Linked DNA regions of Homo sapiens: regions 1, 3, 4, 5 and 6 are each reported to be linked to region 2. The links are microRNA targets in miRTarBase. Many come from high-throughput screens and were not tested one by one. Region 2 holds a microRNA gene; each other region holds the end of a gene's coding sequence.

The links. The annotated mature microRNA hsa-miR-1229-3p reads CUCUCACCACUGCCCUCCCACAG and lies in region 2 at 1,797-1,819, shown strand. An mRNA with a match to its seed (bases 2 to 7 or 8) in the 3' UTR can be bound and repressed. Matches are read on the target gene's strand: a 7mer-m8 pairs with bases 2 to 8, a 7mer-A1 pairs with bases 2 to 7 and ends in A, and an 8mer does both.
Region 1: the mRNA of PPL is a reported target of hsa-miR-1229-3p. The part of its 3' UTR that is shown has no 7-base or 8-base seed match.
Region 3: the mRNA of ACOT7 is a reported target of hsa-miR-1229-3p. The part of its 3' UTR that is shown has no 7-base or 8-base seed match.
Region 4: the mRNA of CTNND1 is a reported target of hsa-miR-1229-3p. The part of its 3' UTR that is shown has no 7-base or 8-base seed match.
Region 5: miRTarBase lists ADPRS as a target of hsa-miR-1229-3p. The part of its 3' UTR that is shown has no 7-base or 8-base seed match.
Region 6: the mRNA of WDR3 is a reported target of hsa-miR-1229-3p. The part of its 3' UTR that is shown has no 7-base or 8-base seed match.

Annotation. Positions count from the first base shown.
Region 1 is chr16:4,879,771-4,883,854 of GRCh38, reverse strand. PPL (periplakin) reads left to right here. Exons shown (of 22, transcript NM_002705.5): 22 at 1-1,348. The coding sequence ends at 471. It overlaps UBN1 (ubinuclein 1), which reads right to left. Exons shown (of 18, transcript NM_001079514.3): 18 at 1,454-3,772. The coding sequence ends at 3,723. Among named protein-coding and RNA genes, the nearest start is that of UBN1, 34 kb to the right of the region's middle.
Region 2 is chr5:179,796,013-179,800,096 of GRCh38, reverse strand. MIR1229 (microRNA 1229) reads left to right here and starts at 1,751; the gene lies at 1,751-1,819. It overlaps LTC4S (leukotriene C4 synthase), which reads right to left. Exons shown (of 5, transcript NM_145867.2): 4 at 4,075-4,084; 5 at 3,450-3,844. The coding sequence ends at 3,703. It overlaps MGAT4B (alpha-1,3-mannosyl-glycoprotein 4-beta-N-acetylglucosaminyltransferase B), which reads left to right. Exons shown (of 15, transcript NM_014275.5): 8 at 29-143; 9 at 461-591; 10 at 787-894; 11 at 976-1,169; 12 at 1,506-1,584; 13 at 1,663-1,750; 14 at 1,820-1,932; 15 at 2,029-2,487. The coding sequence ends at 2,052. RefSeq lists silencers at 3,471-3,682, 3,527-3,686, 3,707-3,756, 3,797-4,084.
Region 3 is chr1:6,260,858-6,264,941 of GRCh38, forward strand. It overlaps ACOT7 (acyl-CoA thioesterase 7), which reads right to left. Exons shown (of 9, transcript NM_007274.4): 9 at 3,415-3,838. The coding sequence ends at 3,740. It overlaps GPR153 (G protein-coupled receptor 153), which reads right to left and starts at 241. Exons shown (of 6, transcript NM_207370.4): 1 at 1-241. RefSeq lists a silencer at 161-480.
Region 4 is chr11:57,815,968-57,820,051 of GRCh38, forward strand. It overlaps CTNND1 (catenin delta 1), which reads left to right. Exons shown (of 21, transcript NM_001085458.2): 20 at 1-34; 21 at 330-3,573. The coding sequence ends at 341. It overlaps TMX2-CTNND1 (TMX2-CTNND1 readthrough (NMD candidate)), which reads left to right. Exons shown (of 21, transcript NR_037646.1): 21 at 330-3,213. Among named protein-coding and RNA genes, the nearest start is that of CTNND1, 56 kb to the left of the region's middle.
Region 5 is chr1:36,092,854-36,096,937 of GRCh38, forward strand. It overlaps ADPRS (ADP-ribosylserine hydrolase), which reads left to right. Exons shown (of 6, transcript NM_017825.3): 6 at 244-1,079. The coding sequence ends at 533. It overlaps COL8A2 (collagen type VIII alpha 2 chain), which reads right to left. Exons shown (of 4, transcript NM_005202.4): 4 at 2,386-4,084. Among named protein-coding and RNA genes, the nearest start is that of ADPRS, 6.0 kb to the left of the region's middle.
Region 6 is chr1:117,958,802-117,962,885 of GRCh38, forward strand. WDR3 (WD repeat domain 3) reads left to right here. Exons shown (of 27, transcript NM_006784.3): 26 at 109-202; 27 at 491-4,084. The coding sequence ends at 646. The region is part of intron 48 of SPAG17 (sperm associated antigen 17); the gene reads right to left. Among named protein-coding and RNA genes, the nearest start is that of WDR3, 31 kb to the left of the region's middle.

The DNA of each region.
Region 1 (4,084 bases), not on the chromosome of region 2:
GTGGCGGACTCTGGGACCAACCATGACTCCAGACTGTGGTCCCTGGAGAGGGAACTGGATGACCTCAAGAGGCTCTCCAAGGACAAAGACCTCGAGATCGACGAGCTGCAGAAGCGCCTGGGCTCCGTGGCCGTCAAGCGGGAGCAGCGGGAGAACCACCTGCGGCGCTCCATCGTAGTCATCCACCCTGACACAGGCCGCGAGCTGTCCCCGGAGGAAGCCCACCGTGCCGGGCTCATTGACTGGAACATGTTCGTGAAACTCAGAAGCCAGGAGTGCGACTGGGAGGAGATCTCAGTGAAGGGTCCCAATGGGGAGTCCTCAGTGATACACGACAGGAAGTCTGGCAAGAAGTTCTCCATCGAAGAGGCCCTGCAGAGTGGCAGGCTGACCCCTGCTCAGTATGACCGCTATGTCAACAAGGATATGTCCATCCAGGAGCTGGCGGTCTTGGTATCTGGGCAGAAGTAGGCACAGCTCTTGCAACTCTTCGTAACGGCAGACGCTGGCCCTCTCCTACGACGCAGTGACCTCCTTGGTGTCGTCCTCTCCCTTGCCCTGGTGCAGGCCAAGCATTTTATACATACCCTCGCTGCCAGGCTGCTCAGAGTCCCGCCCACATATGAGACAGGCACTGGCTGAAGACAGGCAACTCTCGTCCCAACCATCATTCACCCTGAGTGACGTACTTCATCCTCCAATGACTGGACAACTGCGATGCCTTTTCCTCCCTTTTCCTGTACACTCCCAGCAACAAACTCCTCATGATAACTGCACACAATCTGAAAACCACTGAAGGACAAGCCAACCACAGCAGCCAAGCCCACTCCTTGCAGCATGGGTACTGGTGGCACACCAGACAGTGACACTGCCCCACAAAGGCCTGGGCCCGTGGGGGCTGCTGCCTGGCATGACATCTCTCCAGATTTCTGGCTTAAAACCAACTTTCCATCCGAGAAGCCTCCTCAGTAGTTACTCTGCTCATGAGACAGATCTGGGCTCCAAGCCAGGAAAGGTGAACAGAAACCACAAGTGTCCAGCCCTCGGTGCTGGAGTGGACGTTAATTGTCAGCCACCAGACTGTCCCGGCACCTACAGAGAATGTTTCACAGTTCTGGCATTTAAATCCTTTGATAGTGGATTGTGCTGCTGTTAGCCTTAGTTTCAGTGCTTTACAAGTCTCGCTTATTATCTCACTGGTATTTAGGTATACAAAACAGTTGATTATTCACCACGCCAATATCTGGGTCTCTGTATCTCATGTAGAACATAAGAAAATGGGAACTAATAGGGAAATTTATTTATAGCATGAAAATAAACCTGGTGGCTGGAGTCTGCTTGTACGGTCCACATGTTTCTTCTTTTGCATGCAAGGCTTACTCCCCCGCCCCCCCCCCTTGGCTTTCAGCCAAAATGGATATTCCATCTGTAACAGCTCCTACAGGAAGAACTACTTACTTCCACATGGTAGAAAGAAAAGAGTGAGAAAAAATGTTTTGGAAACCTTGAAACAATTTATTGAATTGCTTTATACAAGATTAACAATCTCCACACCACCCCTAACACCAACATAGTCGCTGCACAAAAGCCACAGCCCCTCTCACACCTAAGAAACGGTCACGCCCGGTAAGTGCTCAGAGACTTTCGCTGCGCCAGGGAAACCCCTGCAGCCCCCAGACCCCGAGGCTGCTCTGCCCCACCCTCTGCTGCGGCCTCGCCTGTAGGTCTGCCTTGCCATGGCTGTTCAGTCATTCGCTCTTTCATTACCACAAATAAAGCATAAACAAGGAAAAGAAATCTCAAACTCCCCATCAAAGAAACGTTTCCCTGAGGCAAGAGGCATCACTAGATTCCTAAAAATGAGGGTATTCTGCTCCAGCTGCACGCGCAATGGTACGTGGGGAGGAGGGAGCACCAAAGGGAAAGGAAGGAGGGCCTGGGACCCGGGTGTTTATGGGCAGAGAAGCCTGGAGAGTCCCTGCTCAGCCTCCACTGCCGGCCTCTGCTTGGCTTTGAGCTCAGCAATACAAATCTCTTCTTTGGCTCTTTTGCTACTACCTAAGACTACTCTGTAAACAAACTGGAAATCCAAGTTGCAAAAAATATATATAACAAAGGGATAAGGAATCCACTTAGCCCAATGTGAAACACGGATTGGTTCTTATGTAAAAAAAGGAGACAGAGCAGAGGCCGGGCCAAAGGGCGGACAGAGGTCTTGCTCCTTGGGAAACCGGGAAGGCCAGCAAACCTCTGAATGAAGGATGAGTTACTGGGCGCTGTACCCTGGGAGTCAGGAGCCAAGAGCGGTCCGTTTTCCCACAGGTGTATGTGCTGAGGACACCGTATACTCTCAACGTGCCTGATCACTTAGCTGGAGCAGTCAGTTCAGACTCACCTTGTGGCACAGACCTCACAAGACAGGCAAGTGCCCTCAAATCCTTGTGAAACAGCCACTGGTTGAGTGGTGACTTAGGAGCTCTGCAGTAACTGTCCTAGTCTCTCTGATCCACTCTCCAAGCTCTTCTGCACATCACCCTTCAGTCGACACATAACCCCACTGCCTGGAGAGCCCCAGGACTTCAAGGCCTATTTCTACCCGGCAGACACTTCACAGAGGCCTGCTTCTGCCGCACTGCCTAAGAATGATTCCTAAGAATACAAACTGGAATGTCTATCTGTGACTTGGGACCCCTGGTATCCTTGACCCTCAGAGAGATGAAGGGCTCTGGGCTCTGCAGTCCACCTCCACGAACTCTGGAAAAACAAAATGGGAGCCCTGGCTATACTGGGACTTGGAATTTGGGGGCCCAGACAACCTTCTAGTCAGGACGGCACAGATAATGATGTGCAAGTGTAAAAAACTCAAAACTGGCTTTCTCTTCAATACAGACATATCTTTAAAAAGGTCTTCGTCTCAGATCCATTCAGAGGGCTGAATGGACATGTGTTGTCGAATTCTGCTCCACCATAAAGGCACTGGAATTATGTCTTCCTATAATATGATGTGTGAAGAACAGTCCCCTTCTATCCAATGCATTTAATGGTAATGATGAAAACTGAGCCCAAAATAGGTGTCTGTAAAAATCCTATCATAATTGTTGAATCTACAAAGGTCTTTTCTCTAAAAGAGCTTCATTGTCATGTTCCGAGGAGAAACTGGCCCCCACAGTGAGCACACCCTAGGTGTTCTTAGTATTTCGCAGGGACAGTGCAGGTCTCCCAGCTGTGGCTCTGGCCTGAGTTTTGTCCGCTTTGAGCACACAGCCTGGGGATGGGGCGGCACTGTGACCATCCAGGGAGCTTACTGCAGCCAGAAGGAGCCCCTGAGCAGTGGGGTGCTCTGAGGTACTCTGACCAAATGCCAGGGGATCAGGCAGATTCACCCACAGGTGTGCCAACTGCTCTGCCACCAGAGCCTGTAAACACTGTGCCTCCCACCACGGCCCAGCGCAAGCCCCAGCCTAGAGCTGCCCCTCTAACAACCGTCTAGCGACAGAGCTGCAAGGCCCAGAGCACGGGGCAGTCTGCACCTCCTGAGCAGCAAGGGCCCGGCTCCCTCCATGGGAGGCACATCAGAAGTGCCGAGAAGCGCTCCGCTGAGAACTCACGCTCCTCCAGAAGAACACCAAGCAGCAGAAAGGGCGCAGTGAGTGTACATCCTGGGAGACCTGCACGTTCTGATTCCACCCAGACCCAAGTGGCAAGCCTTGCCTCTGAAGCGGTCACAATTTCCGTGGTACAGCAGGCCCTTTCCCGTGAAGCTGAGAAGCACCTGGAAAAGAGTAAGAAAAATTAGAACGCAAGTTTTTCATGCTCTCTGATTTCCTTAAGGCAGTAGTAACCAAACTTCAAGGGAGACACCTAAATAGCAAAAGTCCCCAAATGCTGAGTGTTCTAGAGCTCAAACAAGCCATGAGACACCAGCCAGCAGTTATTCGTGTACACTACTCCTGGCCACAGCCTGCAAGCACACTAGCACTGTGAAGGTCGGTGGTCACTCAGCACAGTGTTTCCAGAACAGCAACTCTGCTGTGCAACTTGGGCTACGTCATCTCAGGCTACAATTGCCATCCTGAGGCGAGGC
Region 2 (4,084 bases):
CCCCAGCCCCTCTCTGCTCACCTCGCAGCTGGAGGATGACATCGTGGCCAAGCCCAACTACCTGAGCACCATGAAGAACTTTGCACTGCAGCAGCCTTCAGAGGACTGGATGATCCTGGAGTTCTCCCAGCTGGGCTTCATTGGTGTGCCCCTCCCCTTACCTGACGGTGCCTTTCAGTCCCACCTGCCTCTGCCATCCTCTCTCCCAGTCCCACTGTGTCCACTGTGAGCCTTTGCCCAGGTGGGCCCTGCCTGGTGTGCGTGCTACAGCCCCACCTGGCCTGTTCTCATTGCCTGTGCATCAGACATGTCTGCCCTCATCACCTGTCTGCCTCCCTGCCCCGTTATGCCCACACCTGCCTGAAGCCTGCCCCTGGGTTTGCTGTGGGACTCGGGGGCCGCTGCAGGGAGAAAGGAAGTAGGCAGAGCAGCACTGCCCACTCAGGCCCCTCCCCACCAGGTAAGATGTTCAAGTCGCTGGACCTGAGCCTGATTGTAGAGTTCATTCTCATGTTCTACCGGGACAAGCCCATCGACTGGCTCCTGGACCATATTCTGTGGGTGAAAGTCTGCAACCCCGAGAAGGATGCGGTGAGCAAGAGCTGGCGGGACTGGCAGGGGCAGGGCCAAGGGGCAGGCAGCCTCCACCCCAAACTGTGTCCCTGTCCTTGCATCTGCTCACATAGAGCACTGTCAGCTGTGGGAGGGCCCTGGTAGTCCCCAGGAGAGGCCGTGTTGAGGAAGGAGGGCTAAGCCGAGCCCTGGGGTGTTGCCCACCCTCCACAGAAGCACTGTGACCGGCAGAAAGCCAACCTGCGGATCCGCTTCAAACCGTCCCTCTTCCAGCACGTGGGCACTCACTCCTCGCTGGCTGGCAAGATCCAGAAACTGAAGGTGGGCTGCACTGCACGCTCTCCCTAGGCCGGGATCAAGGTCGGGGCCCACGCCATCACTGCTGTCCCTCCTCCGCTGCAGGACAAAGACTTTGGAAAGCAGGCGCTGCGGAAGGAGCATGTGAACCCGCCAGCAGAGGTGAGCACGAGCCTGAAGACATACCAGCACTTCACCCTGGAGAAAGCCTACCTGCGCGAGGACTTCTTCTGGGCCTTCACCCCTGCCGCGGGGGACTTCATCCGCTTCCGCTTCTTCCAACCTCTAAGACTGGAGCGGTCAGTGCCAGCACCATGGGTCTGCGATGGGGGCGGGGCTGGGTGGCCCCCAGGGTGTAGGCTTCACCGGCAAGTTATCCTCACGTTCTTCAGTTTCCGCATCTGAAGTGGGCCTCGTAATGGTAGCTACCTTGTGAGGACTAAGTCAGGCAGCCCCTAGGAGCTCAGGGATGTTTCCTGTCACCATCCTCCCAGAGGAAGGCCCTGGTCTCTTTGCACAGCCTGACAGCTGCCTGGGGGGCCCTCCTGGCGCAGGCCTGGCCTTTCTCTGCTGGGCCCTGGGTGCTGTGCTGGAACGCTGCCCCTGCAGCAGCTCACAGGCCTGCCTGGCTGCAGGTTCTTCTTCCGCAGTGGGAACATCGAGCACCCGGAGGACAAGCTCTTCAACACGTCTGTGGAGGTGCTGCCCTTCGACGTAAGTTCGGTGGGTGTGGTGTGCACTGAAGCCGGGCCTCCTGTGACCACCTGCCTCAGCCCTTGATTCTGCCCCCAGAACCCTCAGTCAGACAAGGAGGCCCTGCAGGAGGGCCGCACCGCCACCCTCCGGTACCCTCGGAGCCCCGACGGCTACCTCCAGATCGGTGGGTAGGGTTTGGGGGAGAGCGTGGGCTGGGGTTCAGGGACACCCTCTCACCACTGCCCTCCCACAGGCTCCTTCTACAAGGGAGTGGCAGAGGGAGAGGTGGACCCAGCCTTCGGCCCTCTGGAAGCACTGCGCCTCTCGATCCAGACGGACTCCCCTGTGTGGGTGATTCTGAGCGAGGTGAGGCTGGGCAGGGCCAGGCCAGGCACGGGGAGCAGCCAGGGAGACCCTGGCGGAGCTCAGAGGCCCTGCTGACCCTGGGTCCGGCTCTTCCAGATCTTCCTGAAAAAGGCCGACTAAGCTGCGGGCTTCTGAGGGTACCCTGTGGCCAGCCCTGAAGCCCACATTTCTGGGGGTGTCGTCACTGCCGTCCCCGGAGGGCCAGATACGGCCCCGCCCAAAGGGTTCTGCCTGGCGTCGGGCTTGGGCCGGCCTGGGGTCCGCCGCTGGCCCGGAGGCCCTAGGAGCTGGTGCTGCCCCCGCCCGCCGGGCCGCGGAGGAGGCAGGCGGCCCCCACACTGTGCCTGAGGCCCGGAACCGTTCGCACCCGGCCTGCCCCAGTCAGGCCGTTTTAGAAGAGCTTTTACTTGGGCGCCCGCCGTCTCTGGCGCGAACACTGGAATGCATATACTACTTTATGTGCTGTGTTTTTTATTCTTGGATACATTTGATTTTTTCACGTAAGTCCACATATACTTCTATAAGAGCGTGACTTGTAATAAAGGGTTAATGAAGTGTGTGCCTCAAATGTGAGCGCCCTGGGCATCTCCCTCTGCCCCTGCGGTTGGCTTCATTTGGTCTGTGCCCCAACATGCCAACTAAGCCTGGCACTGGGCCTCCCCAGCCAGCATCAGCAGCGACCTTTCCCTGCTAAGTCAAGGAGCCAGCCTGGCCTGCAGGCGCGGGGTCCAGCCCCTGGCTGTGCAGCTGCAGTGCCACCTCGGCGCCAGCGTACCCCCCTTCCTAGGATCAGGCCGCAAAGTCTGTCACTGGTGAAACCAGCTCAGAATCTGGGACCACAATGCCTATAGCAGGTCCCCCGAATGTCTCCCCCATGTCCAAGGCCTGCGATGAGGCCTTCCCTTAGCTCCTCAAGCTGAAGGCATTTCCCAGCCTCCTTGTTCCCCTCCGTGTGTCTCAGCTTGGTCCTCATCCTGGGTCCCCGACACTCCTCTGGCACATTAGGGTCTCCCGCTCACCTCAGGGCCTTTGCACACACTGTTGCCCCTCCTTGGAAAGCTCTCCTTTCTCCGTTTCTCCTGCATACTTGGCTAAAAGTCACTTCTTTGTTTCTGTGGGCCTCCCCTGGATCCCCAAGGCTTCTGGACATTTCCTTGAGACCGCCTGTCACTGACTCACTTCGTTCCCATGGTGCCCGCAGCTCTGCGGACCTCGGAGGGCTGCCCTGAACACCTACAGTTAACGAGGGGGATCCAGTGCTGACCAAAAGAAAAACCCCTGCCCTCACCTGGGGAGAGAGCCACAGGCTCTATCTAGTGTCAGCTGTGAAGGCCAGGGGACGAGGGACTGCGGCGGCTGAGAGTCGAGGGAAGGCCCCTGAGGAGGGGGACCGGTGAGGAGACCGCTGAGCGCTAGGAGGGTGAACCCCGGCAGGACTGGGCGGCCTTGTGACCCCGAGGCTGAGTAGGGAGTGGGGTAGGAGGTGAAGACCGGATCCAGTCCCGCCCCAGGGGGAGGGCTCGTTCCTTCGCAGCCACTCTCACGCCGCCACTAGGAAGCCCGCCCCGGGCTGCCCGGACTCGGGCTGGGCCCCTCCAGGCTCCGTAGCCCGCGGTGCGCCACCCCCGCGGACCCAGAGAACGCAGCCCGGGTCTCGGTCACTAGAACTTTAATGATAGAGACTAGGATGCGGAAGCGAGCGCCCCTCCCCGGGGCAGCTGGAGGCTCCGGCTCTTCTTTCCCGGCTCCGTCGGCCCGGGGGCCTTGGTCTCAGGCCCACGGCAGCAGCGTCCGGAGCCGTCCGAGGAGCGCGGCGCGCAGCGCGGCCGGGAGGAAGTGGGCGAGCAGGCCGAGCGCAGCCAGCGCCACCAGCAGCCAGAGGGCGCGCGCGCTCGCGTACAGCGGTGCCAGCCTGCGGGCGGCGGTCAGCGGGGAGGTGGCGCGAGGAGGCCCGCTTCTTCCCCGCCGCAACCCTGGCCCCACGGGGACTTCCTCTGGCCGCCGCCAGGGCTCGCCCACCGAATCCCCAAAGGCGCTGGGCTCCGGCCCGTCGCCCGCCCCCAGCTTCGGTCCCGCTCCCCAGGAGCCCCGCCCGCCCGCGATCTTTCCCCGGCCCCGCCCCGCTCCCCGCCCGGCCCTCACCTGAGCTGCG
Region 3 (4,084 bases), not on the chromosome of region 2:
GCTCCCGCCTCCGGCTCCGGCTGCGGTTCCCGCGCCCCCGGGCCGAGCGCAGGCCGCCGAGGGCCGCGGGGGTGGCTGGCGGCGGAGCGGCCCGCGGGCCGGGGCATGCTGGCGGCGGCCACCGGCGGCCGGCGCGCTCCGCTAGGTGGGCTCGGCCCCGCCGCCCCTCCCTCCCCTAGGCGCCGCCGCCGCCGCCGCGCTTCGCTCAGCTCCCGCCGCTCCGCTGCTGCGCCGGGCGGCCGGGGGCGGGGGGCGGAGCAGGGCGCATGTCTCCGCCGGGGCCTCCGCACCGCCCCTCGGCCCGCCCCGCCCCCGCCCGCTCAGAGGCGCGGCCGTCTGTCGGTCTGTCAGCCCGTCCGTCCTTCCGTCAGTCCGTCCGTACGCAGCCCACCCGTGTCCCCGCGTCCGCCCGCGGCCGGCCCGAGCCTCCCTGGGCTGGTGGCGCCTCCTGACAGCGCCGCGCCCCTGGCTCCCAGCTCGGCTCGGTGCACACTCCGGACGCCGCCTTCGGACGCCGGGGCAAGACCCAGGCCCGGAGCTCTGGGGGCCCGGGGGCCAGAGGGAGCTGGGGCAGGAATGGACACTGAGAACCTGGGGCCAGGGCTGGGGCTCAGGGAGACCTTCCTGGAGGAAGCCGCATCTAAGATGAACAATCGGGGCGGGGCGTGGAGAGGACAAGGGACGCATGGCCAGCGGCTTCTAGGAACCGGGAATCCAGTCTGAAGCAGGGGCAGCGAGGGGCAAGGTTGGGCCAGTTACGGATTCACGCTGCTCCCCGGGCCTGGGGGGTCCACTGAGGGAATAAAGTGCACGGGCCACCGGGCTGCCGAGTGGTCCCCGCCACCCCCACAGGCTCAGAAATTGTTCTCTCTGAAACTCTGAGCACCACCGCCCAGCCGGGAGAGGCCAGGGTCTGCAGCCCAGCGCCTGAAGCCTTCTCCTACTCCCCTCCTCCCCTCCTCCCATTCTTCCCGCCCCTCCGCCCCTCCCTCCCAAGCCCTCATGCTATCACCACTCCTCATAGAGCACAGGCTGTCACCCACAGACTGACAGCCTCAGCTGGCCCCATGCAGGCGGAAAGCCTCCTGCTTCTTGATGGGGGCCCTGGAGAGGACGCCTCCTGAGGATCGTGCCTGTCTTTTCTAGAAAGCACCTGACCACACACACAATGGGCACAAGGCCTCTGGGGCTGCCTGGCATAGTGTCCTTCCGTGCCTCTGGGACACATCCATGACTAGGCACCCCTGTGTCTGGAGGAAACTAGGCACCCGACCAGGAGGAGACCCAAACCAATTGCAGCCAAAACGGATGCTTGGAGCTTGCCCAGTCCGGGCAGGGCTGCTCCACAGCCTGCACCTGCCTAAACCGTCCCCACACCCCAGGTCCCTGAGCAGCTTTTAGGGGGCCCAGGATGGGTCTTAGGGTCCGTCCCATGAGACAAAAAGAGGAGTGTCTGTAGAGAAAGGCCCCGCAATAACGTGTGGGGCTGAGCAAGGGGGAATCTGGGGCCATGCACACCTATACTCCCTGTGGTTTCTCGGGCAGCCAGGGCCCTCAGTGTCCCCAGTGAGCCCTCTGTGGACAGGTTGGCTCCCCCTCCAGGTGGTCCTGGTTATAAATAGGCCACCAGCAGTGGGAGGCTGGCACAGGGCAGCTGTAATCAAGGGTGGTGTTTCTAAGTGTCTCGCCTGTGACTCGGGGTGAAACGGTAGAAACGCCACACTTAATTACATGGCCACCGAGAGCCATGCCGCTTAGAAACACCACGGTTAAGATTGCACACACAGCCATGGAGAGCCATGCCTCTGTCTGGGCCTGGCTCCCCTCTGCCAGCCCAGCTGACCCACTGCCTGGACCAGTGCCTCTGCCCGGCCTCAGCTGGCTCTAGGGCAGGTGGGAGATGGCCTCTGATGGCCGCCCCGGGGCCCTGGCTTATTTCGTGCTGTGCTGGGTTCTGCTGCAAAGTGCCCGGTGCCCCTGGGAGGCGGTTTTCAGGTGCCTGGTTTGCCCAAAGCCACACGGATGAGTGGCTGAGCCAGGACTGAACTAGGGAGTCTGATGCGGGGCCCAACTTCAAGTGAAGGGTGTGGGTGCTTTGGGGAACTGGTCCCCTCAGTGAGCCCCTGGGCTCAGGCACTGCTGTGGCCAGCCCTGGGCCTTCTGCTAGCTGGGAAGGGTGGCCTCCTCATTGCTCTGAACCCAGGGCACCATTCTGGCATGGGTCATGGGTGGAGCTGGGGGCCGAGGCTGGCTGAGGCCAGCCCCGGGGGGCCAAGGGGCATGGTGGCGTGGCAGAAGCTTCATGTGGCTGAGCTTGTCCCTCCCACCTCCAACCCCCTCCCAGACAGGAAATAACCCCGTCAGCCGTGACTGGGGCCCGGGACAGATTCCCAAGCTCTTGGCTGGTGTTTCTGCACATCTGGAGCCGAGTCCTCGCTCTCCAGGGGCCAGAGGGAGCCTTGTGCGAGGCCGCAGCTGTTGACGGGCCAGTCTTCTCCAGGCGGCAGGACAGATGTTGGGGCTTCAGGGACAGACTGAATTGGGAACATTCTCCCAGATGCCACTTCTGGGTGTGCTTGATTGGAGGGCCTCCTTTTCAGCCATGGATGCAGGTGGGGTCCTGGTCCCTGTAGTGGCCTTGGCTGGGCCAGATGCACAGATCAACCCTGCTACACCGATACCCTCACCACACACGTGCTCACAGATATGCAGACAGATGCACACGCACATGCACAGATATGTCAGTGACACGTATGCCCACAGCTTCACACCAACGGCACTGACACACATTCGTGCTGTCCCTCAGACCCCTGCCCTATAAGCCATCCCAGCAGACTCCTGCCTGAGTGGCTGGGGGAGTTTCCACGTCAGGCACAGAGTCCTGGCGCCAGCTGGGGGGCTCCTTCAGACAGGATTTTGGGGTGTCTAGGCAGTTTCTAGCAAGAGGCTGGGTCAGGGTGGGGCTCCCACACGCTGAGCCAGGCCACATTTGGCTCTTCCCACACCATCACCTCGCTGAGTCTTTCCCAGCAGCCCCACCCTGTTCATAGGAAAGCCACACAGGCTCAGAGCCGGCATCCTCTGCAAGCCAGACAGGGGGGTTGTGGGGTGCTGGCACTCCCACCAGGCAGCGTGGCCCTGAGCCCACATCCTCCCAGCATCTGGGCTGCCTATGAGGTCCAGGGAGCCAGGGTGTCTGGGGCCAGGACACCAAACCAGGGACCCACGGGAAATGGGCATTCATAGCCAGCAAGTCACCAGCCGGACACCAATCGGTGTGGCTGTGCCTGAGGTTCTAGGGTACATGCAGGTGCTGGTGCTGGGAGGGCTGAGACTGTCCACGGGAGCCCCAATGTCCCACACCCCCTGGGAAAGCAGCCCCCCCAAGACAAATGACCACCCAGGACACGTGGGTCCAGCCAAGCAGCAGCTTTATTAGTGGTGCTGGGTTCTTCCCATACCCTACAGCGTGCTCGGAAGCATTCCCGAGGGTTTCTGCCCAACGCCTCCCGGCGCTCGGGACAACACTGTGTAGCATTGATACTGGAATGATATAAATAAAGCTTTGGTGTGTAGGTTTGCAGGAGAGAGTACAGGTTAACACTGTGATACGAAAACTTCAGACAACACCAGCTCTCAATGTGAATTGGGTTTTTGGCCAAGGGGGGAACTTCTAAGTGACTGGACACTGGGCCCGTTGCCATGGCTACTCGAGGCACCAGTGGCAGGAGGAGGGAGTCTAGGGCTGAGGCTCCGCGTGGCCCTGTCGCTTCGCCTTCATCTGCAGGTACCGCCCTTTGCCTTCCTCAAAGCGCTTCTTCTCGTCCTCGGTCTCGGGCTGTGGACCACACACAGAGACAGGCAGGTTAGGGTCACTGCAGAACCAGTGCCGTGGCCTTGTGACCTGGCCTGGGGCCCTGCCCCCCACCCGTGGGATCTGCCCCACCCCTGGTGCATGCTGAGTACCACGCCTCGGCCCCGCTGGCCTCCTGGGACTGCCGGGTAGCCCAGGCATGGGGCTCATGTCCCACCTCGCTGATGGGCCTATTGACTGGGCTGGGTATGTTCAGCCAAGATGCTTTGA
Region 4 (4,084 bases), not on the chromosome of region 2:
TGATGAGGGGGGCCAAGTGTCTTACCCCTCCATGGTATGTCCTTCAGTCACCCCCAAGATTGTTCTTGAGGAAGGAGGCTCCTGAGTGCCAGCAACTTGTCAATCACGCTAATCTGATCAGGCCAGAGACTAAGTAGTCTCAGCCACATGGGGCTCGAGGGGTTCTGCTTTTGTGATTATTACCTCTTACGAGTCTGGGACATGCAGCTGGTGATCTGATTCTCCGTTATGTGCTGCTTTCCTTTCTCCAGATTTGCTCAACTTTTTTGGGGGGGGTCTCCTTAATCCCAACCCCATTAACATTCTCTCTTTCTCTTTTTTCTCCACAGCAGAAGATTTAGCACCACTATCTCCGTTCCATCTGGGCTTATATGTACTTTTATTTTTTGGTGGTGAAATTGACTGATGATTTTCCTTTTTCTTCGCTGGACTATTGTGCCAACTGCCAGGCTGCCTCCTGCCCTTACAGCCCTAAGTGGCTGCCTTCTTTCCATCAACTCCCAACTTCTTCCTGTGAAGTTTAATTGTCTCAACGCCTCCCCCTCCCCCATTCCCTCCATTTTTCTCCCAAGAAACCTGACTCAATTATTTGCATATTTTGAGAAACTGCTGCAGATTAGTTCTTTTTGCCAGTTTTCCCTGGAACTCCTGGCCTTTTGTGGAGGGGAGGGATGGAGAGAATAGGAATCTTCACTAGAAGCCGTGGGAAGAATTGGAAGTTACATGCTGTATATGCAATGTCCAGCAGTCTGATAAACTGACGATTCTTAATCAAGATTTTTTTCCTGATGGGGAAGGGACTTTTATTTTCTTTTAGAGAGGGGAAAGTGTGAGCTCTTCCCTTATTCCTAATGGCTATTTTTGAAGCAAAGAAGGCCAGCAACATTGGCACATGCCACCTGGCAAAGGACCCTTGAGTAAGTGAAGGTCTCCTAAAACTGGGATTAAGAAACCTTGCTCTCCTCATCTCCAAGGCAGGGACCATCAAGAACCTACAGACTCCATCTCTTCTGCAAGCCTCATGCCAACCCTGGGCTATTGCTGCTGCCCCTTAAACACAGGCTGTCCTTAACCCACCTCTCCTGCCCTGTGATATGTCTGCTGAGTTGGCCTGGCCATTTCCAAGAGGCTGTAGAAAGGGGAGAATGTCAAGGAAGACTTTTGGTAGAGAAGGAGCAGAAAGATGTGTTTTTGGGAAGAAGAAGACCTCTAGGAGGAGCTAGTAGGAATGTACATGAAGCAATTAGTCTGAAACTGGCTTCCCCACTCCCCCGTTTCTCCTTTTCCTATCCTTATAGGCCTGTCCCTTGCCTCTGCCCTGGATTGGTTGGCAAACTAAAGGACTTGATGTACATAACTCCTGTCCCTTTTCCCTTACAAGGTGGGGATTGCCCCTGGCTTTGCCTCTTCTTTGTGCCTTTGGCCTGGGGTGCATCTCCTCCCGCCCTTCCATGTGCCTTTCTTTGCCTCTGCAGTCTCATTTCTCATAATTTTGCAAATTATATTTTGTTGCTTTCTTACCTACTATTGGCCCTAAATAGCAGAAAGAAGAGAAGTGACCGAGAGAACCTCAGATTCTTCATTGAGGATTGGTATAGCCATGATTTCAGTCATAGCAAGCTTTTGCTCAACAGCATATGGGTGGGATTTTGCAAAAATCCTATTCTGATGAATCTCAAAGTAAGGCTGGTAAGAGAAGTGAGTGGTGTGACTCTTACTCCTTAGGTGCCCAGAATTTACCATCATCTCTGAAGGAGTTACAGGGAAGTGGTCTCCCCAATTCTCCCCTCCCTCCAGTATTGCCCCCTCTCACTTTAGCATATATTAATTAGCAGGTTGGGCTAGAGAAATCAGCTGCTATGCGGGTTGATTATTATTATTATTTCTAATCCTTTTCCTTATTTGCCTTCTACTCCCCTTAATCTAATCTAAAAGCTCTGTTCCATGCAACTGGAGTTCCTTATCCCTCTCTTCCCCTTCCCTTATATATTGAGGCTATGGGGTAGGAGAAAAGTGCACAACCCACCACCCCCTTTACTCGTGCATTAAAATTTCTTATTTACCCTTTTCCCCCTTCCCATTTCTTCCCACTTTCATCTACCTTTTCTGGCAAAAAGGAGCCTTTTGCTCTCTGTGACCCTAAGAGCACACTGCACAGGGAAAATTGCCCCATCCAGACCTGGCTCCACTCTTGATCTCTCTTGTCCTCTTCTGCTCTTTTCCTGGTGCTCTTTTTTCTCGGTGGGGTGTGGGTAATAGAACAGCCGTGGGCTTTTGGGGACCTTTAACTTTTTTTTCTCTCTTTTGTTTATAAAAAACACTAAACATTCAATTCCAGAGAACCAAAAATCCCACCTTCCCACCGAACACTACTAAGGGGCTTGTGTTCTGCTCCATACCTTTTCTCTTTTCTTTCTGTCTTGTTAATGCTTTTAAAAACAAATGAGTTTTTTATATAAATAAAGTTTTTAAAGTGTGTATGTGGGGGGTCTGTGTCATTTCTTCACTTCAAGCTGTTATTTCTTCCCTGCTTTGCATCTTTGTTACTTCCTTATGTATCAGTGTCCTTTCCAGAGCAACCAGAAGGAGGTTATACCAGGATTTATTTTGAGCTCAGCCCCAACTCTTTATCAAGCAACATTCTTGTTAACTATATGTGAAACATTTTTTCTTCTGAAGATTCTTAAAAATTGAATGTGGCTGAAGTTGAACATGGGAGCTTATTGCTAATTTAGAGATAGGAAACTGAAGCATAAAGAATTAATGACTTACTTTAATTACTGGAATTCTTCTGCAACATTTGACAAAACTAACCTTGAATAAGGCCCACTGTAATACGTAGCTCTCTTAAATATAACACTTAGGACTAGAAGATTAGAAACTACCAATCCCAACTACGTAATAGGAAAATGTAGGATCAAAAGGCCCATGTATATAAGTACTGACCACTGGGCCATAATGTTGCTTCTCAGGCTATATGCAGTCCTTTAGTCAGAAGTCAATAGGCCTATTTATTAATATTTTACAGACCATATTACCTGGATTACCAGGGACTATCTTTGCTGCAGAGATCAAGGGTTAAGATCTATGGGAAGATACTTATTTTTCTGAGGTCCTTATGTCCTGTCATATAATTAAAGACTCAAGAGAATTTATGTGAAATGCTTTCTGTATGCCCAAATCTTTAGATTAAAATTATATAGCTGCTCCTGATGATGGTCCTGTCTTGTTTTATTGAACTAGGACTTGGGTATGAAAACTTTCATGGGCTAGTGAGACCAGGAAATCAACTAGCTTTTAAAGCTTGATTTGTGTCTAACAATTGTAGTGTTAGATTAGAGGTTGAAGTACAAAGCCAAAAAGCTATTAAGAGTTTACTTTCCAAAGAGTTTTGATAGCCCTGCTTGAGATGATTTTTATCTAAATAGAAAAGCCTGGCTGCTTGTCAGCAACACTTTATTTCCCTGTTATGTTCTTATCCTTTGGCATTGAGCTAGATACAAACCCTACTCTTCTCTCTTCCTTCTGGATTGGTCCATTTGTTTATCTCATTCAATAAATATTTGCCAAGCACCTCCTATATGCTAAGCGTTGTGTCAAGGTTAGGTTTAGATTAGAGAGTGAAACAGATGGATCTTTTCTCATAGATTGCAATCCATGAGAATCCTCTATAGCTAAGATCTATGATCAGACGAGATCGTGTGCGTTCAGGGTGATATGGCCATAGACAAGATCTATGATCTTAAAAACACTTCTCTCTGTGCCATATCTAAATACAATGAGATGTTACACAGAATGATGTGTAAAGGCCCTATCTCACAAGTTTCTTGACACTGATGTACTTTGTGACAGAGGTCAAAGCTGGGACCTCACTTGGCCACTTTTTTTTTTTTAGACAGAGTCTTGCTCTGTCACTCAGGGGCACAATCTCGGCTCACTGCAACCTCAGCCTCCTGGGTTCAAGCGATTCTTCTGCCTCAGCCTCCCGAGTAGCTGGGATTACAGGTGTGTACCACCACGCCTGGCTAATTTTGTATTTTTAGTAGAGACAGGATTTCACCATGTTGGCCAGGCTGGTCTCAAA
Region 5 (4,084 bases), not on the chromosome of region 2:
GCTAACGTTACTCCCTGTCTGCTTAAGGAGTTGAATCTGGGAGCAGGAAGCTTAGCGGTCCCCTAGGTAACTCTCCCAGTCACGCAGCCAGTGTGTGGTGGAGCCAGGATTTGAGCCCAGGTGGTCTAACTGTAGAGCCTGAGATCTTAGTCACAGCCTGCTTGAAGCCGAGAGTGCTGACTTGTGTCAAATGGTAGGAGGCCTGGGGAAGCATGCAGCCCCTCTAACCTGGCTTCCCCACAGGGAATGGCATTGCTGCCTTTGAGTCGGTACCCACCGCCATCTACTGCTTCCTACGCTGCATGGAGCCAGACCCTGAGATCCCTTCTGCCTTCAATAGCCTCCAAAGGACTCTCATTTATTCCATCTCACTTGGTGGGGACACAGACACCATTGCCACCATGGCTGGGGCCATTGCTGGTGCCTACTATGGGATGGATCAGGTGCCAGAGAGCTGGCAGCAAAGCTGTGAAGGCTACGAGGAGACAGACATCCTGGCCCAAAGCCTGCACCGTGTCTTCCAGAAGAGTTGATGAGGGCTACAGCTGTTGGGGCTCTGCCAGGTCCCCTGGGACCAACTACAGCTCCAATCAGAAACCCTGCGCTTCCTTGAGTGTGGCTTCCCACTTTTCCTGCATTGTGGAGCTGACTGAGTACACCGGTGAGGCTGGGGTCTCTGCAGGGGAGGTCACTGGAACAGCGAGCAAGGGACTGGTGCCTCGCTGGTGCTGGGTCTCTGGTTTGCTGCAGAGCCGTAGGACACTCCTGGCTCCTCAGTAGGACAGACAGACGCAGGCGGGTTTATTTTGGAGGGGTACTTGTGGCATTTTCCTGTATTGTCTTGGACATGGGATGTGGGGAGGTGGAAATGATGAGCAGTAGCATCATTTCTCCCTGTTGGGTTTTAGCCAGTTTGCCAGCAAGCGCATCCTAGCAGGGTCCCCGAGCAGCAGGTTGTGTGGATGAAGGGACAGGCACTTGCATCCAGCTGATCTAGGTCACACCTGGCTCTTGGCTGCCATGTGGCTTATTAACAGCTTCCAGTGGAAGTCGCAATAAACAGTTTTTGGTAAATCTCACCACTGTTTCTTGTTTCTCCTGCCCTGAATGGATTCTCCCCTGCCAGCCTGATCTCTGAAGACTAGTGCCTTTGTCTGTGCTGCACTGTCATAGAAGCTGGGGCCCCAAGGCCATGAGCTGCTGTGTTGCCAGGCACTCCAGCTGGCTGCGTGTTCAGCCAGGAAGGGCACAGCAGGCATGGTCTGGTGGCTTTTCCTGTTAGAGATCACTCAAAGTGGCCCAGGCTGCTGGGCCGAGTGCTTTGCCAGAGGCAGCGGGTAGGAACAAGCCAGATTTTTCTGTTCTCAGAGCCTGACTTCCCCAAACAGGAGCTAGGCCCAGCTGGGCCAGGAACAGGAACCCTGTAGAAGGATCCAGAGGGCCCTGCTATCATCAGACTACCAACCTTTGGGTGGGGAGGGCACCATCACGGGGCCCCGGGTGGACTGAGTGCCGTGTGCCTCCTCCTGTATCTTGGGACCAATCAAAAGCCTTTCCCTGCAAGGAAGTTTTACACAGCATGTTTTTAGAGATGGGGTCTCACTCTATTGCACAGGCGATCCTCCCACATGGGTTCCCAAGTATCTGAGACTAGCATCCATTCTGAAGAAGGGAAAATTGAAAGGGGGAAGATGCCTCCCCTCAAACTCCAGGGACATTCTCTGAGCATCCAGCCTCAGTGGCTAGCCGAGCATGTGCAGTCTGCAGCTGCCCTGCGGTTTCAGCACTCTCGGGCAGATCTGTTTTAGTGAAGATAGGGTTCTGGCTAGGCTGAGGACTCTTCAAAACACAGATTGCTTCAGGTCTGCCACCCAGACCCCCAGCGCCAGGGACAGATCTTTCGTGGCTGAGCATGGCAGGCTGTGAGCAGGTGCTTTCCGCCCAGGACAGCTCCCCCAGCCTGTCTTCAGCACTGGGCCTGACACTAGCCCAGCCCTTAGGAGCAAAGATTCATGATTTCATTCATAATTTGTATCAGATGTTGAAACTTGGCCCTCGGACTACTGAGCCAGCTGTCATGCTCCACTAGCCCTGAGAGCTTGCAGGAATATTCCAGTAAAGATTGAGCCATCGCCCCCAGCTCCAGCCACTACCTGCCTTTGGTTTCTTAAAATGCCTCCTGGCATTTGCCTGGCGCATGGCCTCAGCAGCTTACGAGCATCAGGCATTTGTGATGTGGTGGTGACAGAAATCCAGGTTAGGGAGCTGGTGAGGAGTGCATGATCCTTAAGAGCAGGCACACAAGCCCCAGAGAGCTTCCTGGACACCTTACAGAACCCAGAGGCTTGAGATACCTCTGTGTCAGTATCAGTTTCAGCACAGTGCTGTTTTATACAACAGGTTTTATTGAGGATGTGTCAATACAGTTAACATGGTTGCTTGTCTTTTCAAAAAGAAGTTCCATTTTCTTTGATTCCCAAGTGCATTTTTCCTGAATCTTCTGTGATACAGGGCACATGATAGGTATGTAGAGAGCTAAGCTTCCTATACCAAGTTAGAAGTGAAATGACTAGTGGAAAACATTTAAACTTTAATCTTAAAAAAAAAATAGGAATCAATATAAAAATGCACAAGGTAATGTCGTTTTCATAGTTAAAATCTGACATTGTTTATCAAAGCTAGTCAGTTAAGTGGACACCTGCAACTCAAATCCCATAAACATTTTAGAAACGCCAACCACCCCTCCTGAAAGGTTTGAGGAATGAAATTTGGCAGAAGCTCAGCTCTGTGAAATAGCTCCCGTTTTTTTTCTTGGGACCCTACTTAGTTCCGTGGGCTCCCATTGGGAGCTGATTAATTTCTGCCAATCAGAACCCATCCCTAACACATCAGATGATAGTGGCTTTGACCTAGGGAAGAAGAGGTTGAGCGAAGAACCCCCACCAGGTATGGTTTGAGAGTCCTTAGTTGGTTTTCTTGGGCGTTAGGTAGTAAGAAATCCACCAGGAACCCCAGCCAAAACCTTCTCAAGTGTCACTTGGGCAGATTTGGGTTATCATTCCTCCTTTTGAAGAAGTGAGCAAACAGCCTGCTTTGTTTGGAGAAGTTGTGGGCAGGGGAGGAGGGTTGGCAAGGAACCTGAAGGAACCCACTGCTCAGCCAGTCAGAAGTCAGCAGCCATCCTCCATTTTCAACATGGACCGCCTGGACACAGCCAGACTTGGAGCAGTGCAACGAGATCACAGACCGAATGACCCCAGTTCACACTTGGTACAAGGAGTGGGGCTGGCCTGGCGAGGGCCGAGCGCGAGGCCCTGCAGCTGCGGGGAAAGTGGCCATCTTTGCACGAGCAGGAATGTCCACCACTCCCAGCACTCATCTCAGCCTTATCCACTCCGCTTGACGTAGGGACTGAGGGGTTGGGAGGGGCATCCTGCCTGTTTCCTGCAGAGGAGCTCTGATCGGGGAACAGGGCAGAAACGTCCAGAGCCAACTCATTCCCAAGGGACCTGTTGGCACCCTTTCTCTCCCAGCCTTAGCCTCCTGGGCCCTAGTCCTGCTTAGAACAGGAAATTGGAACCAGAGGGTGGAAGGAGAGGAAGCCCCCACAGATGAACCCCTCTTGTACACACATACACCCACCATATGGTTCTTATTAAGGAAAAGGAAGTGGGAGCCGTCTTCATCCCCCAGCTCGCGTGCACCTTGTTCAGAGGGCCAAACGAGAGGTGCTCTGCCTTGGGGATACCTGGCTGGGGTGACAAGGATCCTCTTACAATTTTGTATTGAGAAAACCAGCCCAGCCCGCAGCAGGTGGAAGGGGAGAAAGGGAAGAGTGCTCATGTTTGCTGATGGTCGATTCTGCCTCCGCCACCATCTGCACTAGATACTTCTAGACACTTCACAGAGGTTGATCTTTCTGGCCTGTAGGTGTCCCAGGGGCCTCTGTGCTGCCCTCAAGCTAAACAGCCAGAGCTGGCGGGGGCAGCCCGGGAGAGACAGGGATGAACGTGAAGAGCTGCCTCCTGCCCCAGGTCTGTGCCCCAAGCCCTCACAAACTGCCTTCCCCATGGCTGCCACTGGA
Region 6 (4,084 bases), not on the chromosome of region 2:
ATGTATATTTTGTTGTTGCTTTGATATTGTGTCTGTTTACTGTTTCTAGAAGGGTTAAGTAGGGCTAGAACCTCTCTGCAACATGGCTGTGTTTTGTTTTTCTATCAGGATTCACTTTGGACAGATCACTAGCAATCAAATGCTTGTGCCAGTGATAGAAAAATTAAGGGAAACAACTATTTCAAAAGTCAGCCAAGTCCGGGTAAGTGTCTTTGTATAGAGATAAAATAATGAGGCAAATTCCTAGTGTGATTTAGAAATAGTATAGTATGCTGTGCTTTGTCTTTAGCAATACCCACCACCGATAAATCCATATTTGAGATAGTTTTTGTTAGAATTAGTAGGAATAGAAAAAACAAACAAGAAAAGTTCTTAATGAGGGAAAGATAAGTAACAACACCTGAAGCTTTGGTTACCCTAACTCTCATACGCTGCTATAATGAATTGAAGTGGGAGAAAATTTTTTAATATTTCTTGTATTGCACTCCAGGATGTTATCGGCTTCAATATGGCTGGTCTTGATTATCTCAAGAGGGAATGCGAGGCAAAAAGTGAAGTTATGTTTTTTGCTGATGCTACTAGCCACTTGGAAGAGAAGAAGAGGAAGAGGAAAAAGAGGGAGAAGTTGATTCTAACGTTGACTTAGAACTGAAATGTGGTATCTTTTTTTTTTTCAACTTTTTCCTTTAAAGGACTCCTAAACTAAGCACAGAAGAGTTGGCGTCATCTTAAAAATACCAAATAACAGAAGATCGCATTGCAGATGATATCAGGATGTGGTTTCCAGCTTTGCCTGAGGGAATTCCAACATGAGATTATGGGCTGGCTCCATTTCTTGGACTTAAAATGCATTATTAGTTTAAAAATCTTTCTGTGCTCTCAAAGCTTGAGCCTTGCAGCTCAAGCTTGTTGTTCCCTTTATATTCTAGCAGGGAATAAATAATTGTTTTAATTAGGTATTTGTTTCATTGGAGTTGAAATTAACATTTCAAAAGTTTTTCGTATTTTTTTATGGCAGATGATTTGTCATTTATTTATATTAGGTTTTACTGCCTATTGAGACAACCAGGTGCATAATTGATTGCCCTTTGGCCATAAAAATGCAGTGTCATGGATCTTAGAGCTAAAAAGGACTGTAAAAATTACCCAGAACAGCGTCCTCAGACTTAACCTTCTGCAAGTTATGTCTGTATATAAGAAGATTCTAATTGCTAACTGTTTATACTTTTCTGAATAAAATAGTTGTTTCTAATTAAAAAGTAGCCAAGCTAAGATGCCTGGCTGGGCTTCTGAGGAATTAATACACTCGTGTGTGTGTGTGTGTGTGTGTGTGTGTGTGTGTGTGTATGTGTATGTGTATGTACACATACATATATATAGTTGACACTTGAAAAATGCAGGTGGTAGGGGCACTGACCCACCCCTACGCCCCGCACAGTCAAAAATCTGCATATAACTTTTGATTCCCCAAAGTCTTAAGTACTAGTAGCCTGTTATTGACTGGGAGCCTGACTGATGTATTATATATATTGTATACTGTATTCTTAAAGTAAGCTAGAGAAAAGAAAATGTTACTTAGAAAATCATAAGGAAGAGAAAATATATTTACTGTGTTTATCAATACTATAAGTGTATGTCATCTGTTTATAAAATGAATTGTCTGTCTGGATTGGCAGGCAACCACAGCCGCAGACCTCAATCTGTGGTACTTATCAAGCATCAGCTTTTTCTTGTAATGTCATGACTTTTCTCTGCTTTTTGGGAGCACTGTGATATGCAGTTTACTGGGGCGATGAGTTGTTCATGCACAGGTGATTAGTGTCACAGCATTTTAAGTGCATACGCACAACACTTGAGCTCACTGCATAGCAACAGGAGGTGGCTGTGAAATTATTTCAGTAACATACTGTGTATTACAGTTCATTTTATGCAGCTATGATTTAATACTGCATCTTTACATTATTTTACATTTCTCCCAAAACTGTGAATTGCACCATGTATGATCTGTATTTGTGTGTGTTAATGTTGATAATAGATTTGCGTGTATTTTATGGCAGTAAATGATAAAATAGTCTAGTATCTACATATATTTTGTGCATTCATGATATAACTACTTTTTTCCTAATTTTTTTCATCTGAAACTTTTCTCATTGTTTCAGATCTCCAAAAATTTTTCCAATATATTTATTGAAAATATCTGGGCTGCGTGCAGTGGCTCACGCCTGTAATCCCACCACTGTGGGAGGCCGAGGCAGGCGGATCACAAGGTCAGGAGTTCCAGACCAGCCTGGCCAACATGGTGAAACCTCATCTCTACTAAAAATACAAAAAACTAGCTGGGCGTGGTGGCAGGCGCTTGTAATCCCAGCTACTCAGGAGGCTGAGACAGGAGAATCACTTGAACCCGGCAGGCGGAGATTGCAGTTAGCCAAGACAGTGCCACCAGCATTCCAGCCTGGGCAACACAGTGAGACTCCATCTCCAAAATAATAATAGTAAAAAAAAATCTGTATAACAGTGGAGCCAAGTGGTTAAAACCCATGTTCAACGGATTGTCTACTGTATATCTTCATGGTAAGGATTTGGGGAATGTTCTAGGAAAAGATATTGACAGATACCTCTGGGTCTGGGCTTTTCTTTTGGGGAAGTTTATAAATGACTAAATCATACTTCTTGTTACAGGCCTGTTTAGATGTTCTGTATCTTCTTGAGACAGTTTTGCTTTTTATCTTTTTTGTTGTTGTTAATCCCAAAGATTTAAAACTATGGTTTCTGTCTGAATTTGGTCATTGCAACCAAGTTACTGTGTTGTGGGGCCACCATTTTCTTCTAGGCTCAGATATGCAGTCCTTGTGGCTTGCCGATTTGTGTCCCAAACCACAAGTCTTAATGTTCTTGAGCATAACACAATCACTGAAGTGAGTAAGGGATGCAGTGGTGTTATTTGTTGGGCAGAATAAATAAGTGAATTTTGGCATAGAGTTTCTGAAGGCATAACTATGAAGGCAAGAGAATAGGCAGGCAGGATAATGCATTCTAGGTGCTTTCCAAGGAGTCAGTGTTGTTTAGGCAGCTATTCCTGCCACCAGGGAGAGGAGTTAATTCTTGAAAAAAAATTTAATTTTTTATGAGAACAGAAGTTGATTCAATATCCTTCTTAGAGTTGCTCATCAGAACATAAATGTCACTTTCTAGTAACATTTTTGATGGTTTCCAAACCAAAACAAGTTCCAGGAGGGCATTCGAGATGTATACATCATCAATAATTACTCTTATGTTAAAAGTTGCTGTTTTCCCGTAGCTTTGCCACCATTTATAACTCAAAAGCCTGATAGTGCTAGGGAATGTAAAGATGTTTCTGTCTGCTAAGTGTTATACTAATCGAAGAGAAGGAGAACTTTTATGATAAAGTGACATGTACAGAACCTAGCCAAGTTACAATTTTTGGTCAAAATACTTGAAACTCTTTAACTCTAAAAGTTTAAGGTCAATAGGTGCATTATAAAGTAAATTTTAAGCCAGGCAAATTTCTAGTCATTAAGTCAGTATTCATTGCCTTAGTCAGCCATTGGCTGTATATAATCCTTAATATAAAAACCATCTAATGACTAATATCTCTTGCATATTGTGAAGTAAGTTACCTATAGAAATTCTGTAGTACCATAAAGAAAAGCCTTTTGAGATTGCAGTGAGCTGAGATTGTGCCACTGCACTCCAGTCTGGGCAACAGAGCCAGACTCCATTGAAAAAAAAAAAAAAGGCTCTTGAATGATGTATTGGGAGTAAAACATTTAGGCTTATTTTTAAAAATGTATATATCCATCCACTTAGAGAAAATATGCTTAAAAATTTTGAAATTCACTGGCTGGAAGCTAGGTGCTTTGTATATTTGGTATTAAATTGTTTCTCAATGGCAAATGTCATAAATTATATCTCATTCTAAAGATATCTAGCAAATCTCCAGCAGAGATCTAGGACAGTGCCCAGGAAAGCAATGGTATCTGTTGGTAGGTACAGGACTGTATATAGGACTCTATTCACTTAGCTGTAAATGATGAGCCTGCTCAATGCAGCCTTTTCAGGC